Linked DNA regions of Homo sapiens. The protein of the gene in region 2 interacts with the protein of the main gene of each other region in a biochemical or structural test. Each region holds a gene or a part of one and is shown on either strand. Other genes may lie near its edges.

Region 1 (3,794 bases), on a different chromosome or scaffold from region 2:
ATCATTTTAATGATACAAGGGAAGATGTAGGGAGTTAACTAAAAAAGCACCGTCCTCACTCAATATTTTCTATATTTGAAGTCCTACTTTGAGCTTTCTTAGCCATGTGACTTTGGACAAGGTACTTCTCCAAATCTCAGTTTACTCACCTACCTCTTGTGAGGATTAAATGAGATAATCCATTAAAACCCAGAGGGTGGAACATCTTTAATGCCTGTAAATTCAACCTGCCATCTTTCCTCTCACCTGGCCCTGCTCTGAAGATAGATAGTGGATTCTTTTGGGACAGGGTCTCACTCTGTCACCCAGGCTGGGGTGCAGTGGCTCACTGCAGCCTCCACCTCCTGGGCTCAAGCGATCCTCCCACCTCAGCCTCCCGAGTGCTCGGACTACCAGCGTGCACCAGGTGGTGGATTCTTAAGTCTTCTTTATCCAGTAGTATTACTGGCTCTTCCTGAGCCCAGAGAGCTGCCCATGAATAGCACTGGGAGCATTGAGGCTCGCTGAGAGTCACTTTTATTGGGAACCATAGTTTTAGAAACACAAAAATAATTCTTTCACGGGATTGGTTCCAGGAGCCCAGAATATGAGTGGCCCCCTACTCTCCAAACTGATCAATGACCTTCTGTATCCACTTCTTCAGGCGGAACACATGTGTGTAGAAGCCATATTTCCCATCCCGGTCACAGCCTTCACCCCATGAGACGATGCCCATTTGATACCAGCGGTTGTTAAAGGGGCTCTGAAGAAGAAAGATGAGGTTTCCAATAGAGTCAAGTTCAAGGTCACATCAGTATTCCCCTGCCAGGCAACTGTTTCTAGATACTAGAGTTTCTCCCCACCCCCAGAAGATGTGTTCACCAGGCCCTGGGCTTTAGAGAAGCTTACCTTCATGACAAAGGGTCCCCCACTGTCACCTTCACAGGCATCCCCTCGTTTCCCTTCATCAGGCTTGTAACCTTGAAAGAGAACAGCCGTCTGTGCTCAGGAGCATAGCTCATAGCCCAGCCACGCCCCTTCACGAGACACAGCTGGTGAGAGTCCACTTACCCCTCCAGTCATTCTTGCTGTCCCCACTTCCTCACCCTACCCATCCAATCCTAGCAAATCTTGTCGGCTCTACCTTCAGCATAGACCCCAAATCCAAACCCTTCTCACCACTTCTAGCTCGAGCTCCTGAACCCACTAGTTTCCTTCATTCTTTGCCCACCTACAGTCTATTCTCCACCCAACAGGCAGAATAATGCTTTTAAAAAGTTGGACCAGACCAGGGGAGGTGGCTCATGCCCAAGCCGGGTGGATCACTTGAGCTCAGCAGTTCAAGACCAGCCTGGGCAATATGGCAAAACCCTCTCTCTACAAAAAATTAGCTGGGCATGGTGGCACATGCCTGGAGTCCCAGCTACTCGGGAGGCTAAGAGAGGAGGATCACTTGCGCCTGGGAGGTTAAGGCTGCAGTGAGCCGTGATCATGTCACCACACTCCAGCCTGGGCAACAGAGTGAGACCCTGTCTCGAAAAAATTAATTAATGATAAAAGACCAAGAAAAAAATTTAAATTAAAAATTAAAAAATTAAAAAGTTAGACCTACAAGTCTGATGAGGATAATAATGATAGTTGCTTTTATCCAAATCTCCCCACGTATCCTCTACAAACAATACAGAACAACACTAACAACAGTAAAACCTACACAAAAAAACCACACCTTCACTAGGTGCTGTGGCTCACACCTGTAATCTCAGCACTTTGGGAGGCCAAGGCGGGCGGATCATGAAGTCAGGAGTTTAAGACCAGCCTGGCCAACGTGGTGAAACCCTGTCTCTACTAAAAATACAAAAATTAGCCAGACATGTTGGTGTGCGCCTATAATCCCAGCTACTCAGGAGACTGAGGTAGAATTGCTTGAACCTGGGAGGTGGAGGTGGAGGTTGCAGTGAGCCGGGATTGCACCACTGCACTACCGCCTGAGCGACAGAACAAGACTCTGTCTCGAAAAAAAAAAATTAGCCGGACATGGTGGCATGTACCTCTGATCCTAGCTACGTGGGAGGCTGAAGCAAGAAGAGGATTGCTTGAGCCCAGGAGTTCAAGGCTGCAGTGAGCTATGACTGTGCCACTGCACTCCAGCCTGGGCAACAGAGCAAGACCCTATCTGAAAAAAAAAAAAGCTAGCAAGAGAACAGCAAAGTAAACCAGACAAAAACGTAAGCAAACTTTTTAAGAGAAAAAAGCAGAAATTAATGAACCACAATAGAAAAATAATAGGCCTGGCCGGGCGCAGTGGCTCACGCCCGTAATACCAGCACTTTGGGAGGCTGAGGCAGGCGGATCACAAGGTCAGGAGATCGAGACCATCCTGGCGAACGCGGTGAAACCCTGTCTCTACTAAATACAAAAAATTAGCTGGGCGTGGCAGTGTACACCTGTAGTCCCAGCTACTCGGGAGGCTGAGGCAGGAGGATGGCGTGAACCCGGGAGGTGGAGCTTTCAGTGAGCCGAGATCGCACCACTGCACTCCAGCCTGGGTGACAGAGCAAGACTCTGTCTCAAAAAAAAAAAAAAAAAGGCCAGGCACGGTGGCTCACACCTGTAATCCCAGCACTTTGGGAGGCTGAGGCAGTCGGATCATGAGGTCAGGAGTTCGAGACCAGCCTGGCTAACATGGTGAAACCCCGTCTCTACTAAAAATATAAAAAAATTAGCCGGGCATGGTGGCGTGCACCTGTAACCCCAGCTACTGGGGAGGCTGAGGCAGGAGAATCACTTGAACCCAGGAGGTGGAGGTTGCAGTGAGCTGAGATCACGCCACTGCACTCCAGCCTGGGCGACAGAGTGAGACTCCATCTCAAAAAAAAGAAAAATAATAGGCCTAATAATTTCATAAATCAAATCCCTAGATATTTGTTTTGAGAAAACCGGCAAGCCATTAACTAATTTACTCAAGAAAAATAAGATATTACAAATACATAAAATAAGATACCAATAGAAAAAATTATAAGAGAATACATTGCAGCAGTCAAGAAAGATACAATAATAGACTTGAGCAAATAGGAAAACGTTTCTTATCCTTGGATAAAATGACTCAACATCAAAAATATGTCCATTCTCCCAGTTAATTTGTTGAAGTGTCATAATCCCAATAAAATTACCACCAAGCTTTTTTATAGACCTAGGCATGTTGACACTAAAGTTCATATGGAAAAACAAACATGCAAGAATTGCCAGGAAACCACTGGAAAGAAAAACTAAAAGAGAACATTAGCCTTCCCAGCTATGTACGCTAAAGCCTCTATCATTAAAACAATGTGACGCTGTACACAGACAGACAACAGACCAGGAAAGCCGAGTCGAACATCCAGAAACATACTCATCCTTAAGCATACTCTATCCATAGAAATCTAGAACGTGGGGCTGGGCACCGTGGCTCATGCTGGTAATCCCAACACTTTGGGAGGCCAAGGCAGGAGGATCACTTGAGCCCAGGAGTTCGAGACCAGCCTAGGTAACATAGCAAGACCCCGTCTCTACAAATCAAATCAAATTAGCTGGATGCAGGAAAAAATAAAACTAAAAAATAAAACCTAGGTCAGGTATGGTGGCTCACGTCTGTAATCCCAGCAGTTTGGGAGGCCAAGGCGGGAGACTTGCTCGAGCCCAGCCAGGAGTTTGAAATCAGCCTGGGCAGCACAGGGAGACTTGTCTATATTTCAAATAAATAAATGAAAATAAGATACAATCTAGAATGTGATAAAGGTGAAATCTCAAATCACTAGTTCAAAGATTGATTGATTGAT
Region 2 (3,500 bases):
CATGGGCTGCTTCTTCCCAGTGGCCTAGAAGTCTGAAACAGATTTACACTCATTTTAGGAGCCTTTTATACATATTCACCTATGTGGCATGATATCTTTCTTCCTTACAAAAAAGGATTGTTCTAAAACAGGCTTAAGTTAAATATTAACTATAAACTTTCACTAACCAATTCAATTACTATATCCCATTTTAGTTAACTCTATAAAAACCTGAAAACATTTAAATTTCCTCTATTTAAAGCTGCTTTTCTACTAAAAGCTAAAAAACAAACAAAATCTTTCTTAATTCAGAATATCGTAATTTTCTAAGTATGTAGACCAGTAACTTTCAACTCGCCCAAACCAGGACTAACATAATGTGTTAGCTTTTAGCTACCTTCTATGTAAGACAGAAGAGAAAATAATACATGTGTACAGGCTTTACGAAAAACTCAGAACAAGTAAACCAGAAACTAAAGGTTGGTGACAGTAGGTGAGAATGGGGCAGAGGAGACAGCAACGAAAACTGAGAATTCACTGGGTATACCTTTTAACTCAGGTGTAACTCTTCGAACATTTAAATGCTTTACATACTCAAAAAATAAAATCAGAAAAATGGAAATAAAGCAAATCCTAAACCTGAATACAAACAGAAATAAGAAGCTGTGTGGCTGGGCGCGGTGGCTCACGTCTGTAATCCCAGCACTTTGGGAGGCCGAGGCGGGCAGAACGCGAGGTCAGGAGATCAAGACCATCCTGGCTAACCCGGTGAAACCCCATCTCTACTAAAAATACAAAAAACCAGGCGCGGTGGCAGGCGCCTGTAGTCCCAGCTACTCAGGAGGCTGAGGCAGGAGAATGGCATGAACCCAGGAGGCAGAGCTTGCAGTGAGCCAAGATCGCGCCACTGCACTCTAGCCTGGGTGACAGAGGAAGACTCCATCTCAAAAAAAAAAAAAAAAAGAAATAAGGTGTGGCTAGGCGCGATGGCTCATGCCTATTATCCTAGCACTTTGGGAGGCTGAGGCTGGTGGATCACCTGAGGTCAGGAGTTCAAGACCAGCCTGGCCAATGTGGCAAAACCCCATCTCTAATATAAAAAATTTGCCACACATGGTAGCGCACACCTGTAATCCCAGCTACTTGGGAGGCTGAGGCAGGAGAACCGCTTGAGCCCGGGGCGGGTGCAGTGAGCCAAGATTGCACCACTTCACTCCAGCCTGGGTGAAGGAGCAAAATGCCTCAAAACAAAACAAAACAAAACAAAACACTGTGTATTGCATTAACAACATAAGCTACACAGAAAAAAATGAATTCAAGTAACTTTTCATAGTTATCTTGACTGTATATTTCAAGTGGGATATATATTCTAAGAATAAGAACATCCTTGGGTCACACCTGTAATCCCAATGCTTTGGGAGGGGAAGGAGGGCAGATCACTTGAGGCCAGGAGTTTGAGAATAGCCTGGCTAATAGGCGAAACCCCCTCTCTACCAAAAATACAAAACATTAGCTGGGCATGGTGGGGCGCGACTGTAAGTAATCCCAGCTACTCAGAAGGCTGACTGAGGCAGGATAATCACTTGAACCTGGGAGGTGAAGGTTGCAGTGAGCCTAGATCGCACCACTGCACTCCAGCCTGGGCAACAGAGTGAGACTCTGTGTAGAAACAAAAGACAAAGCAAAACAAAAACTTCCCAAAAAACCTTCAAACTTTACTTAGAGTGTATACTGTTTTTAAGGTATTGTAATTCTGAAACAGTTTTATGTATATCACAGCATTGTAGTAAGTAAATGTAAAACTAGGACAAAAATTTTTACCACACAAGTGTCAAAAATACAAACTAAAAGGTAAAACAAAACATTTAATGTTACATTTTAATAGAAAATATCAGTATAAACTCACAATTTCAAGAATTTTTTCCCTAAATTCATGATTTTTAAAATGTTTTTTTCTAGCTGTTCATTGAAACGACAGTACATACCAGAAGCAATGAACAGACACAGTGATCAAATCTTAGTTTCCGCTATAATGAACCACGATTTCCCACAGAAATAGCTTATTTTCAGTCTGAGACAAGCAAAGCACAAGATGAGCCAACGCTGTCTTGTATTAGAAGGCAAAGAAATACTTGGACTAATGGGATTTCAAAAGGATCAACAGCAATGCATGGGCTTTTCCTGTGCTGACACAGCATTAATAAATTTTATTTCAACTTTTAATGTTTATCTTTAACATGTGTCATAAAATCCACTAGAGCTACTCTGAGTCAGCTAATACAGTTGTCCTAAAAACATATCCATCTTTATCTCCATCCACATTTGAGCCCTTTCAACCCAGGTAACATGTGAAAGTCACTGAACACTTCATTCCCAAGATACAAATATTCCTAAGTTTTGCTGCAAGGTATAATTACTAATCTGGGTTAAATTCACCTCTTTATGCCCCCCCGCCTTCTCCTAATTTTTCAGGTGGCCTAGCAGTGACTGAAGTAGTTTCAGGCTGGCATACTCCTTCTTCTATAATACACTGGTAGTTCAATGCTAACTTACAGAGTCTGAAAGTAAGAGAAAATTTGTAAGGACACTGATAAAAGATCATTCTTTCTTTTCCTGGAATTAATTTTAAGTAAAAATCCTTTCCTTATATTTGGCCATATGTAGTCAAAAACTGGTAAGAGTAGCTTTATTTGAATGAAAAAAATGAAAATACTTTTTATTTCTTCCTTCCTATATTCTCACTTCTTCTTTTAAATTTCTTTTTTTTTTCTTTTACCTTTTAAGCAGCTGTCTACAAGCTATCTCACTTCTTGATACTAAGTACACACTAATTTGAAAATTAAGTCATTAGGAACTTTTGTGTTTTTGTTTAAACAAAGCATCTTAAAACATCAGATTTAAATGTAAAGAGTTCTGAAAATAATTAAATTCAATTATTTACCTGTGTGCTTTCCCCCGCCACTTGTAAGGCTGAGCTGAATCAGGATTTATTTCAATGGCTCTGTCACAGTCTCGGATGGCAGCATTTGGCTTCTGTAATTTGACGAAGACACTGAAAAATAAGTGTGTTATTAAAAAGTATTCATTTCAGTAAAAGTTTTGGGATCAACACAGAAGCAACTCTATTTAAACAAATGTGCAGAAATTATTTGCCAGGGGATGCTTTTCTGTTTAGAGTTCTCACCTGGCCCTCTTGGCATACAAAATGGCCAAGCGAGGATTCAGCTTGATGGCATCTGTGAATAAGTCAATGGCTTTCTGGAGTTCACCTAAAGTGAAACAAAAGTTATCGAGAAATATTCAGAGGATAAAAATATTAATAAAAAGTTTTGATCTGTTATCCAGTTAAGTCTTTTACATTTTTCTTTTAATCAAGTAAAAATAAAAAAGACAACTAAGTTATACTAAAACTGGCTCTTGAAAGCAAATCTTACCACACCTATACTGTAACTCACGAGGTAAGACAATTTCTGAGTACGTAAGCCCCTAACTAACAATAGAATAGCACATTCTTAGTATGA

What was found. The genes of interacting proteins can lie anywhere in the genome.
Region 1: of the proteins of ST13 (region 2) and F2, one has a biochemical effect on the other in vitro, tested with the Homo sapiens proteins (one study listed by BioGRID).

What each region holds. Positions count from the first base shown.
Region 1 is NC_000011.10:46,736,213-46,740,006, reverse strand, and holds the end of F2 (prothrombin preproprotein), read right to left. Parts: intron 960-3,794; coding exon 889-959; intron 743-888; coding exon 599-742; 3' UTR 501-598; downstream 1-500. UniProt on the Homo sapiens protein: Thrombin, which cleaves bonds after Arg and Lys, converts fibrinogen to fibrin and activates factors V, VII, VIII, XIII, and, in complex with thrombomodulin, protein C. Functions in blood homeostasis, inflammation and wound healing.
Region 2 is NC_000022.11:40,832,640-40,836,139, forward strand, and holds part of ST13 (hsc70-interacting protein), read right to left. Parts: intron 3,249-3,500; coding exon 3,164-3,248; intron 3,032-3,163; coding exon 2,921-3,031; intron 33-2,920; coding exon 1-32. UniProt on the Homo sapiens protein: One HIP oligomer binds the ATPase domains of at least two HSC70 molecules dependent on activation of the HSC70 ATPase by HSP40. Stabilizes the ADP state of HSC70 that has a high affinity for substrate protein.